3 separate regions of the Homo sapiens genome follow, and all the other regions are reported to be linked to region 1. Evidence: microRNA targets listed by miRTarBase, many of them from high-throughput screens and not tested one by one. Region 1 holds a microRNA gene; each other region holds the end of a gene's coding sequence.

What was found. Region 1 holds the annotated microRNA hsa-miR-32-5p (UAUUGCACAUUACUAAGUUGCA, at 1,210-1,231, shown strand). A microRNA usually pairs through its seed, bases 2 to 8, with sites in the 3' UTR of a target mRNA and lowers its output. Matches are read on the target gene's strand: a 7mer-m8 pairs with bases 2 to 8, a 7mer-A1 pairs with bases 2 to 7 and ends in A, and an 8mer does both.
Region 2: miRTarBase lists BCL11A as a target of hsa-miR-32-5p. Seed matches in the 3' UTR shown: 8mer at 3,078-3,085.
Region 3: the mRNA of DNAJB12 is a reported target of hsa-miR-32-5p. Seed matches in the 3' UTR shown: 8mer at 3,587-3,594.

Annotation. Positions count from the first base shown.
Region 1 is chr9:109,043,435-109,047,502 of GRCh38, reverse strand. It overlaps MIR32 (microRNA 32), which reads left to right and starts at 1,205; the gene lies at 1,205-1,274. The region is part of intron 14 of TMEM245 (transmembrane protein 245); the gene reads left to right.
Region 2 is chr2:60,457,002-60,461,069 of GRCh38, forward strand. It overlaps BCL11A (BCL11 transcription factor A), which reads right to left. Exons shown (of 4, transcript NM_022893.4): 4 at 193-4,068. The coding sequence ends at 3,403. Among named protein-coding and RNA genes, the nearest start is that of MIR4432HG, 68 kb to the left of the region's middle.
Region 3 is chr10:72,332,453-72,336,520 of GRCh38, reverse strand. It overlaps DNAJB12 (DnaJ heat shock protein family (Hsp40) member B12), which reads left to right. Exons shown (of 9, transcript NM_017626.7): 8 at 590-741; 9 at 1,904-3,658. The coding sequence ends at 711. Among named protein-coding and RNA genes, the nearest start is that of DNAJB12, 20 kb to the left of the region's middle. RefSeq lists enhancers at 615-734, 1,295-1,704.

The DNA.
Region 1 (4,068 bases):
CACATACTCTGTTACACCATGATGCCTTCTTTCAAGAGGAGCTGGTTAGGGAAGATCATGACTTATATTTGTGGACATAAGAGGGTGGCATTTAGAAATTCAGGTCTTTGGCTCAGGAGAGAATTTGAGATTACAAAGAGTGCTGTCATCTACAGCGATATGAGGAAATCAGTCTTTTACAAATTAGATTCGACTTCCCTTCTTGGGAGTGCATACACTAATTATGTATTATAACAGTAGCTTATGTCTTGGTTCCATAGTATACTGGCATTTAAAAACCATTTGTTTTATTATCACCTTATTTTAAATACAGAAAAAATTTTAACAACCTTTGGTACCAGAACTATAATCTAATGGTTCTCAGAATTGATAGATTTTTATGAGTCTGATAAATATGGTACAGACTAAAGAATGGGTTATGGCCTGAGACATTTTTCTAACCAAAGCTATATCAAGTTATGTAATTTTAAGGCTATAATTCAAGGTGTTTTTTTTGCAGTTTAAGTTCCTAGGGCTGTTTCTTTACTGGCTCAAATTCAAGACTTAAAATGTACAGATTTTACAGAGATTCCTCTGAAGAGCTTTCTCCTGTGGAGAAGATGGTAGTGAGTTCTCTTTCTAAGAGCTCCTGTTGGATTTTTCATCCTGAAGGTTTGTGTTGAAGAGGCAATATGTTTCTTCATGGAAAAAGATTTTGAGGGAAAAATAAGTGGTTATTTATAATTTATGAATGACTATGAAAATATTGTAATGTCCTCAAAGTGCAGTTTAGCCTACAAATATCAGTGATACCAACTTTTATAAGCATCAGTCATTAATCATCATCTATGTTGCAGCTAAGTGGAAATCATTACATTCATTTATATGATCTGTGAATAAGTCAAAAATGGAATTGAAATTGGGGGTTAATTGCATGACCAGACAGTGATAGTGTCTGTTCGTGAAGCTTTGCCTTCTGAAGTATGTGGTTTCTTTATGATCACTATCTCATTGAAGTTTTGAACCTTACTCATTATTTTGATTCTGAATAAGTATTCTTCTCAGTTGAATACATTTGCAATTGGGTTTTCATTTCATGAAGTTTTGAGTCAGTGGCATGCATCCTTTATCCCCAGACCATTTTCCTCTCTTCAGCAGCATGTTGTCTCCTGAATGTATACATCACACCCTTCTTCCCTGATGCTCCCATTCTGCTTGCTCTGGTGGAGATATTGCACATTACTAAGTTGCATGTTGTCACGGCCTCAATGCAATTTAGTGTGTGTGATATTTTCACATGAGTGCATGCACACGGGTATGGCTCTTGCTTGCTGGGATTACAGCTTTTCAGTGCCAGTGGGTGGGTGTCCTGATGAATTAGATAAGACAGTGTGTATGCCATGCGATTCTCATTTGGAAAGTGAACATGCTTCCCATCGGTACCTTCCAATTTTGGAGAATTAAAAGTATTTGGATTAAAAAAAGTCAGCAATGATCATTTAGTAAATCAGTGTTTCCATTTTTTACTTTGAGCAAATGAAATATTTATTACAAATTCTCATTGATTTAAGAGTATAAACAATATTTAAATGTATAAGGAAGAATGTAAAGCTGTAAGAAAATGTATTTTCATTTATTTGAAGAAATCTCTCCCAACACTGGAATAGAGAAGCAGAAATCTCTTATGCATATTTGGGGAAATTAAATTAACTGGAGTTCTTAAATAATAATCAAGACAGTAAAGGTATGCTTAACCTACCTGATGAAAGATTCATCTCATAAACTTAAGTTTCCAAGGTAAATTACCTTAAAAATGTGTCTTTTACTTTCTCATTGTGATGCTTCGAAAACTGCTAAATTCATTTTAGTGGGCTAATAATGGAACTAGTTTTGAAATACACGTTTACTATTTGCCTATGTAATTGAAACAACCCCTTGTTATTTTTTTAGTTAGCATTAGAGTAAGCATCCACAATCACTAGGCATTGTCAAGGACACAAAACCATGTATTACTGTATGAAAATATTGAATTAATATTTACTACTACCATAGCCTCCAGATGATCTATTGTGATGCTGTCATTGTATGTTTCTGTGTTTCACCACTGTTTTGGAGGGTGAGAATGGAAGAATTCCACGTAAGCAGCTCATCCCCTGTGCCCTTCAGCAGCTCGGCCGTTCCCCTCATGCTGGAAATCTAATGTCAGCCAGGTTGCTATATGACACCCTGTGGAGCTGGGTTTCCAGGGCAGATTAATCAAGAAAGGGAAGATGTGACCTCTCAAGGGAGGTTGGGGCTGGGAAGGGGTGGGTAGAGAGAGATTTGTTAAAGGATACAAAAATTACTTAGAAGGCATAAGTTCTAATGTTCTACAGCACTGTAGAATGACTGTAGTTCAACAATAAATTATATCATTTCAAGTAGCTAGAAGGAAGATACAGAATGCTCCCAACAAAAGAAATGAGGCCAGGTACGGTGGCTCACGCCTCAAATCCCAGCACTTTGGGAGGCCAAGGCGGGCAGATCACCTGAGGTCAGGAGTTCAAGACCAGCCTGGCCAACATGGAGAAACCCCATCTCCACTAAAAATACAAAAATTAGCTGGGCTTGGTGGCATGCACCTGTAGTCCTAGCTACTCGGGAGGCTCAGGTGGGAGAATCTCTTGAACCCAGGTGGTGGAGGTTGCAGTGAGCTGTGGTCATGCCACTGTACTGCAGCCTGGGCGACAGTGAGACTCTATCTCAAAAAAAAAAAAAAAAACCAAAATGATAAATGATCAAGATGATGGATATGCCAATTACCCCTATCTGATTACTATACATTATATGTATTGAAACATTATTATGTACCCCATAAATATGTAGAGAGCAGTCAAGGGAGCTGGCGAGTACTTTTCCCACTGGTTATTGTATATACTGTGTCTCTAAAAGCTGACTGGTCTCTCCCACCAGCTCACTTTCTACTTGAGACATACCATATTGCAGTGAGGCTAGAATACTGGGAAGGGGAATGACAGTCCTTTAGAAAAGAGGGTGGAACCAGTGTAAGGAAATGTGGAGGAGGCAGAATTTCACTTTGGACTCTTCACTCCTCCTTTTCTTCATTATTTATCTTCTTCCTTAGACAGGTAATTCTTACTCAGCTGTGGTCTAAGGCCCTGTGTACACTGAGTTTATAGAGCTTCTGGACTGGTTTGTTATTCTCCCCATCCCACTCCTTGCTTCAAATATCATTCCATTAAAAGCAGGTCATCTGATTAAATCCTGAATTGTCTTGTTATTTTTTTCTTACTCAGTTTAGAAAAGTAGCAAGCACAATCTGGTTTGTCAGAAAAGAGAGGGTTGAGAGCTAAAGTTAAGTATCAGGAAACGTGTGAAAAAGTAAGTTTCATCCTAGGATTTATAAAGGATGAAGATCAAGAGCTGGTTAGGAAGAGTTAACATTGTAAACAATCATTTGAAGTCAATTCAAGCTTCTGGTGCAGAGGAGTTATTATTAAATATAGTTGTGTAAAGGAGGCATGGATATTCACACCTTTAGTGCCATACGGTATAAATATACAGTAGGCTTTATTAGGGGAAAATCCTAGCTGAGAAAAAGCTGATCCTAACTAACTCTTGGAACTTTTATTCCACAGAGAGGTATGCTTAGGTGGGGCATAGCTGGATTGGATGCACGATGGCCTACCTTCCAATGGACAGGAATCCTGCTCTATAATAGTCTATATATAGTATGGGACAGGAGAACATCTCTAAGACTGTGTAGTAATGGGAGGTCTATGAATAGGGAATAGGCCTTGTTAGAAAACCGTGCCTCTAGCTCAGTGGCTGGTGTGTCAGTCTCTTCTTCCATTGAGCTAAATCACGTCCATCTGAGCTACCAAAAGGAGGGAGGAAAAGAACCTCCAGAGTTTGATTCTCATCAACTATTGAGTGCTAGGAGAGCTTGGACTAAAATTAAAGAACAACTGTCAATAATCTTTGAAGAATCACTGAAGAAAAAGGTCCCAGAAAACCAAGAAAAGGCAGATATTTTTTGAGACATAAAGGTGGAGGAAGCGTATATAGTCCATAAATATTAGACTGGTA
Region 2 (4,068 bases), not on the chromosome of region 1:
TATGTCCAGGGTTTGAGATATGTCTATTTTAATATAGTAAGTACTTTATGTTCCTTTAGGGTATAATACACGCATCAGAATGCCCATAGAAATAATCCTGAAAAAGACTGACTGGCCTTCTCTTAAAACCTGTTATTTTCTTGCAAGTAATTTACAGAGTGTGTCAAATGAGGACACAAGAAGCTTACAATGTGTACTTTAATTTTTTTTATTTTTTCAATAAAGGGACAAAATGGGTGTATGAACAGGTTAATGCAGACAACTGCCAAAAAAACACAGACAGTGGTTTTTCCAATAGAACTTAACAAAGACCAGAAACAAATACAATAAAAAGCCAGGTTGTAATGACCTTTGGTCATCTAAATAAAAAAAAAAATAAAAACAAAGAAAAATAAAAGATCAAATTAAGTGCCTCTGTTTTGAACAGGGCACATAAGCAATAATAAATAGTGACTCCCATAGTAAAAGATAAAATTTCAAGTTACGACAAACAGCTTTCATTACAGGAATAGAAAAGGCCAATAACAAAATATTCTGCATTGCCATTTACAAAAAAGTATTGACTAAAGCGGGCTTTCTCTTTAATATGCTTTGCATATGAAATTCTTTCCAATCTAAATATAAAGCACCATTTAGTTTTTGGCAATGAAAAAAACTGCAAAACATTGGTTTTTTTTTTTTTTTCCTTTTTTTTTCTTTCTTTCTTTTACTGCATATGAAGGTAAGATGCTGGAATGTAGGGTGATAGAAGGAAAGGGACAAAAAGCACACTACATAACAAACCAACGTTATTAGCTTGCAGTACTGCATACAGTATGGCAGCAGGAAAAAGGAACAAAAAAGGATATGTACAACCCCTATGACAGCCATCCATGTGACATTCTAGCAGGCTCCCCCAAACCGCCATTATATGGCTTCTCATCTGTAATGTCACACTTTTTTGTTTCTCTCTTTTTTTTTTTTTTGAAGCATACAAATAATTTGCACTATATTATCCTGCCAAATTAAAAAAATATACTGTGGCAGCCTGTCTTTTTTTTTTCCACTACCAAAAAAGGTACATTGATACCTTTTAAGAGAACAAGCAACAGTTAAAAATACAAGCTTCAATATAAATACTATAGTGCCTAACACTAGATGAACATTTAATTCAAATACCATTCTAGAAATACAGAAAAAAGACCATAAATGTATTTTAGCATAGGAATCAACATGAGTGTGCATTTTCCTATATTTAAGTACTATATAATCTTAAACCTTTCCCCAATGTATGTTTTTTTTTTTTACAACCTGAAGAGCGGTGTGTATCCAAGGCATAGAATTTCCACTACCATTTTTAAATGGATAACAAGTCTTGTAACACCACCAAGACAATGGAACCCTAAAATGCAGTTCCCCCCTAAACATAATGAAGTGTTTTTTAAAAAAAATTTTTCTTAACATTTATATTTAAAAAAGTTTTGTACAAAAAAATCCTTGCACTGTAGAAGCGAAAGCAATCATTCATTTCTATGTTAAGTGTATTCTGTTTCCATTCACAGCGCTTGCAATGTTGCGTCCAAGTAAGTAAGCTCAATAGTCAAGTAAATGGCTGGCAAAGTTTTTTTTTTTTTAGTTTTTAAAAAATGCTCCTCAATGAGATTGTGTTCAATTTTTTTTCAGCATTCTTGCAACTTTTCCCTTAAGTATAGACCTGTAAACTGGGAAAATTGTACAGTGCACTTAATTGTCCTATCTGAGCAGGTTTATTTTATACTCAACCTCTGTATCTCTGATTAGAGAAAAGATACAGATATCACAGGCAGAGTCAAGTGCTATTTGAACACCAACTGGGGCAGATGCTAGCTTAATAAAAAAGAAAAAATTAAAAAAATAAAAATAAAAACAATGAATCCTCTTCCATGTTAACACAAATAGCACACAGTGTATGGAAAAGAAATGAAGTACAACTTTTAGGGAGCACAGACATATATACTGCTACTCTTAAAATTCTTTCTCTTCTTTTTTTAAGAATGTCACATTTAAATGCAAGTCTTAAGAATTCATAGTTAATCATCATTGTATCAATATTAGCTTATATACCTGTTCTAGTTTTAAATGGCAAATAGTACCACGTTGTGCTAATAAATCATATTATTTTCTTCTGTTCCCCTCTGTCAAACCTTATTGTCAGCCTCTTCCTTTCAATATGGTATACAAGGTCTTAAAGTTTATCATTTGATTGTCCACTTGACAACCAAGTAGATCTGGATCTATTTCTTTTGGTGCCAGTATTTTTAAAAAGACATTATTAAAGCAAATATCTTCATAAAATGAACTCCTTACTAGTGTATTTAATTGCGTTCCAGGGCTTTTGCACATTACACATTCAATTTAATCATTGTTTAAAAAAAATAAAACTTTGGGCAAAACAGCCCATTTCTTTTAAGCTCTCACCAGGAGCAAAGTAGCTTTTATACTGGTATAATCAGTTTTGTTTATAAAATTAAACTAAAGGAAAAATGATGATTAACTAGGACATAATGGGTCATCTTTTTAGGTAGCCATTGTTGTGAGAAATACAATATAGAATTATATGCTAGTTCCTAAGGTTTATTACCTCACCCAATGCTGAATTAAGCTACAAGTTTATAACAAGTAGAAAGAACCATCGATGTGGTTTTAATAGATCCAAGGCACTCATATTTTAAAACCAAATGATAGAATAAACTTGTTCTGTTTTTCTGTTAATTTGTCAATTCAAGGCCTTTTTTCTTCCTTTCCAATTGATACATTTAACCCTTTAGAGACAGACATTTAGCTCATAGAGATTTTTTTTCAGTGCTATCTATTCTGTCTATAGAGGGTTAATCCAAAGACTGTTTTTCCTCCTCACGTTATAAAATAAAACTGTACATGATATGTATTACAGAATGTATGCAGCATGGTCTTTTTCTCTCTCTCTCTCTTTTTCTCTCAGAACGGAACTGGAAACAGCAACATGTTTGCTCAGCAACGAATTAGGGACAATTTAAAATAGCCATAACATACCATACATGCTGTCTAAGTTTAAAAAAAAACATACACAACATGTAAATTATTGCACAAGAGAAAGGCTCAAAGTTTGCGTAAAATGCAATAGTATTGCCCCATACAGATCATGCATTCAAACGGTGAGAACATAAAGGAAAAAAAAAAAAAAGGAAAAAGAAAAAAGAAAAAGAAAAAGAAAAAAAACAGGTGTGCTGGTGACAAGCACTCTCATATTCTTAGCTTCGTTACTTCTGTTTGTTTGTTTGTTTGTTTAAATCACATGGGACTAGAAAAAAATCCTACAGGGAGTGGGGCTGGAGGGCGATGGGGAAGGGGAGTGGTGAAAAAGGGGGTGTCAGGTGGGAGTGAGGGAGGGGTATTAATATACCTCTATTCAGTTTTTATATCATTATTCAACACTCGATCACTGTGCCATTTTTTCATGTGTTTCTCCAGGGTACTGTACACGCTAAAAGGCATCTTACAAATTTCACATTTGTAAACGTCCTTCCCCACCTGGCCATGCGTTTTCATGTGCCTGGTGAGCTTGCTACTCTGGGCACAGGCATAGTTGCACAGCTCGCATTTATAAGGCCTTTCGCCCGTGTGGCTTCTCCTGTGGACAGTGAGATTGCTACAGTTCTTGAAGACTTTCCCACAGTACTCACAAGTGTCGCTGCGTCTGCCCTCTTTTGAGCTGGGCCTGCCCGGGCCCGGACCACTAATATGGGGCGTGCTCCCTCCACTTCCCGTGCCGCTGCGCCCCGAGATCCCTCCGTCCAGCTCCCCGGGCGGTGTGGAGAAGCGCAAACTCCCGTTCTCCGAGGAGTGCTCCGACGAGGAGGCAAAAGGCGATTGTCTGGAGTCTCCGAAGCTAAGGAAGGGATCTTTGAGCTGCCTGGAGGCCGCGTAGCCGGCGAGCCACTGCGAGTACACGTTCTCCGTGTTGGGCATCGCGGCCGGGGGCAGGTCGAACTCCTTCTCGAGCTTGATGCGCTTAGAGAAGGGGCTCAGCGAGCTGGGGCTGCCCAGCAGCAGCTTTTTGGACAGGCCCCC
Region 3 (4,068 bases), not on the chromosome of region 1:
AGTGTGGGGGGAAGGCGGGGGCTGTATTTGGGAGGTGGCTTGGGATGAAGCTGGAAAGCAGGGGAAGGAGAGAGCCCTGCTCACCCTGTGCTCTGAGGGCCCAGCCCCTGGCACTGCCCTGCACCAGCCACCTCCCAGACAAGAGCTGGTCTCCACTCCTGTGTTTCTCCGGGGCTGGGAGCCAGGGGCCACCTGGTAGTTTCCTCAGGTTCCCGTAAATCACTGCCATCAGCCCAGCATGTTGGCTGCCAGAGGTGAGTGTGTAGAGATGGACTGGAGCGGATGGATCCCTGGCCACCCCCTGACTGTGCTCCTGGATCTGTCTGTGGGACCCTGGGGAGGCCTGACCAGGATGACAGGGTCTCACCTTGGCTGGCCTCACTGCATTCTAGAGAAAGGCGCCTCTGTCACCCTCGCCCACATAAGGACTGTAGTCTCTGCTCCTCCATGGTCTTCCTAATGGGAGGCCAGCCCTGCCCAAGCCCCGGGCATGTACCAGCTTTCCTCCGCCCTCCACAGCCCTCGCAGGCTTCCTTGCAGGCTTCGGGAGGTACTGGGTGTGCACTAACCCTGTCCCATTGCTTTGCAGAGGAAGGCTTGCTGTACCGGGCACGCTACTTTGGCGACACAGATATGTACCACAGAGCACAGAAGATGGGCACCCCCAGCTGCAGCCGACTGTCAGAGGTGCAGGCCTCCCTGCATGGATAGTCCTGGGCCAGCCACACCACCGAGGTCCAAGTATGAGCCAGGGCTGCCTCCACCCTGCAACTCCTGGCAGCTTTGGCCCTGGTCATGAGCAGAGGAGGGAGGGGGAGAAAGGGAGGAAGCCTGGTGATTGTGGCAAAGACTCCTGTCCCCAGCCTGACCTCCAGCCTCCAGAGACCGAGCAGCTGTGGGGCCTGCTGGGAAACCAAGGTCGGTTTCCGCCCTCTAGCGATGCTGTCCTCCCCACTCCTCCGCTCTGCTCCCTGGCTCCAGGGGTGTGGGGGACCCCAGAACCAGGCAGAGTGGGAACTTGAAACTGTTGCTGAGGGCCACCCGGGGCTTCTTGGTCCACTCCAGCCATCAGTCAGCACGGCCCTTTCTCCAGCACAGCAGACTATTGTCCGTGCCCTGGTATTTAGGCCATCACATATGGTGGGGCCCAAGAGAGCCCCATATGCACACTGCCTGCCTGATACCAGGAAGAACCATGTGGGAATAGGTGGGCCAAGAGCCCTCCCCTTTCTCCATCCCTCCAGCTAGGAGGAAATGGAGCAAGATGAACAGGCAGCCACGAGGTGGGTGGGAGCTGGCAGTCTTGGTGGCGGCAGGGGCCGCGGGCCCTGACCACCCCCCTCTGGTGGGATCTGAGGCACTCTCTCGAATGCCGTCACACCTGGCAGCCTGGAAGCCACAGGCATCCGGCCTTGCCCAGGCATCTCGCCTGCGGTCTGAGGAAGGGAACAGAAGGTCATGAGTTCAGGGTCAGACGCAGCCGCTCAGCACAGGAGGGGTGGAGGGGAAATGAGAGTTGCTGGTAGCAGGCTCCCTCCTTCTGCAGCCCGGCGAATGGGGGCGCTGGGCTCTGTTCCCAGCGTTTGCCAGAGGTGGCCACTTCAGCCAAGCCCAGAGAAGTGTGGGCAGAAGCAGTGAAGGTTCTTCTCTGTGTGGGTGCCCTGCCCACCCCCTCCTTTGCCTGTGTCCTCCCGGCCTGGATCCATGGCTGACTCTGCCTGGAGGCCATTTGTGCCTGCCTCTGTGCTGCCGCAGGAGGGCAGGCCGCAAGTGGGGTTGGTGGGGGTCGAGCGGGCAGCACGGTGCAGCGGTGCAGTGGCAAGGGGGGCTACTTGTGTGGCATAAGCTAGAGGAGCCGGTGCCGCCTGAATGCCGAGCTAACTGTTGCCACTCTCCTCCCCAGACTATGAAATCCCTGGAGAATTTTTGGTGACATGCACTGAGCCAAGGTGATGGACTGTATATTTGAGGAAAGACAAACAAAGAAACAAAATTAAAATGGAATTGGAGGCCGAACGCTGCACAGCTGCCCTCTCTCTCACCCAGTAAATGCAGAAAGCTCTTAGGACAGACAGAAAACCTGCCATGGGGCTGCTTCCCTCCCTCGCAGGGCTGGCGGAGGCTCCGCATCGCCTCTCTCCTAGGATACAGAAACCATGGCAACGAAAGTAGAATGTAAAACTCGCAGCAGATATCAGTGGGAAGGGCTGGGGGAGGGGGCACCCAGCTGCCTTTCCTCCCTCACAGGAGCCACCACCAGCCACCTCTCAGGAGAAGCCAGAGGCCCTGGCCAAAGATAGGAGGAAGAAAGAGAACTCTCCATAGAATGTAATTTATAGATGCGTGTATATGTATATATATCTATTTATATGTAAATAGGCATATATGAAGATATATATATATATAGTCTACTTTTTAAACTCTGCAGGGATTTGGTTAAGTTGTTGAGCTGATTTCTTCCATGTTTTAGAAAATGAGGCCTGTTTGGGGAAGGTACCCTGGTGATGTTTTTGCTAGACATTAGCTGTAGCTGACAGCATAAGGAGAGTCGCATCAGAGCTTTTCACAGCCCCCCGAAACCCCAGCCTGGTTTTGATGGCAGCAGTAATCATGATAGTGTGAACCCGCGAAGGCCTCAGGATTATGGTTAACCTGGAGAGGAGCAGGCCATGGAGGCAGGTGCCAGGTCAGTATTGAGTCACAGTAGAGGCCCCACAAGGACCTGCTTGGGTGAGACCACCTCTCCCCTCTCAGCAGCGCTGGTGGGCTCTTTGTCCTGGTGCCCAGGAGCCCTCCAGCCCCCTGCCCACAGAAGGGAAGGCCTGCAGAGGGGGCCAGGATCTACCTAACCATTTCCCCACCCCTAAGTCCCTCAGTGGGCTTTGCCTTATAGGTGCCACAGGGCACAGCTCCATCATTGCCACTGGTTTTTCCTAAGTCATGCACCAAGGACTTCAGAAAGTTCTTCCTCCGAGTCAGTCAGTGGTGCCGGGACCCCAGGGCAGCCTCCTCGACTCCTGAAGAAAAGGCAGTGCCCGTGGCTGCCTCTGTCTTCACTCGCTGTTGATGTGACCGCCAGGCCTCCTCTCGTACCTTGGACAAAGGATACACCTGAACCAGAATAGTTTTCTTACCCTCACATTGAAATGAGGATTTTGCTTAAAACAGCACTTGCCGCCAGTGGGAGGAGGGAGGTTTTATTTATTCCCACAGTTTCTCCTGGGCCTTCTGGAATGACCATGTTTTCCTGTGGCGGTGGGTGTGTCATTGCGCCCGCCGTCTTCCAAAGCCTTACTTCCCCAAGCTGCCAGCCAGGAGGTGATAACCACCCTCCCAGAGTTTCTCTCGGCTCTTTTTTTAAAAGTCCCCCAACAAATAGGATTCTTGCTGGGAAAGGAAGTTCGGTAAGGAAATGTCAAATCTGGTTTTTAAACAAGGTCCAACCCTGCAATGAAGCAGCCACTTCAGCCCAGAGAGATTATAAGAACTGATGTGGCCAGAGTGCCTACCCACTGTGGCCCCGGTGCTCTGCCCCCACGCCCCGACCATCTGGTCTTGGTAGATGTCCCTAGACGGGCTGAGCCATGTGCAATAAGAACATAGATCCTAAAGGATCCTCTGGAAGCTGTATTTCTTGAATTAGAATTCTCAAATTGTACATCTGTTAATATATGTTTATTATGTGACTGGCCGTGGTGGGTCTGCATTGAGCAGGGAGGCCTAAGGGGTGGGGGGGAGGGGGCACAAGCCCCTGCTGCTGCTGACACTGTCCAGCCTGTGCCACAAGGAGCTCTAGATGATGAGCCTGAATTTCCCCCGACCCCTGGCCCTGGCTAACAGCCACTTAAGCCACACATGCTGTTCCAGAACTAACTCCATCCAGGCAGAGGGGTGCTCAGGTGACTGGGGGGCTGCAGGACCTGAGCAGTCTGGGTCCCTGGGGTCCCCAGCGCCAGTCCTGGCTGGGCATCTGGGCCACGACCATCACCCTCTGCTTTTCCCTCTCCCAATCCCTCCCCCCCACACCCTCAGGCCTGCCATGTGCCCGCAGAGCATTCGAAATTCCCG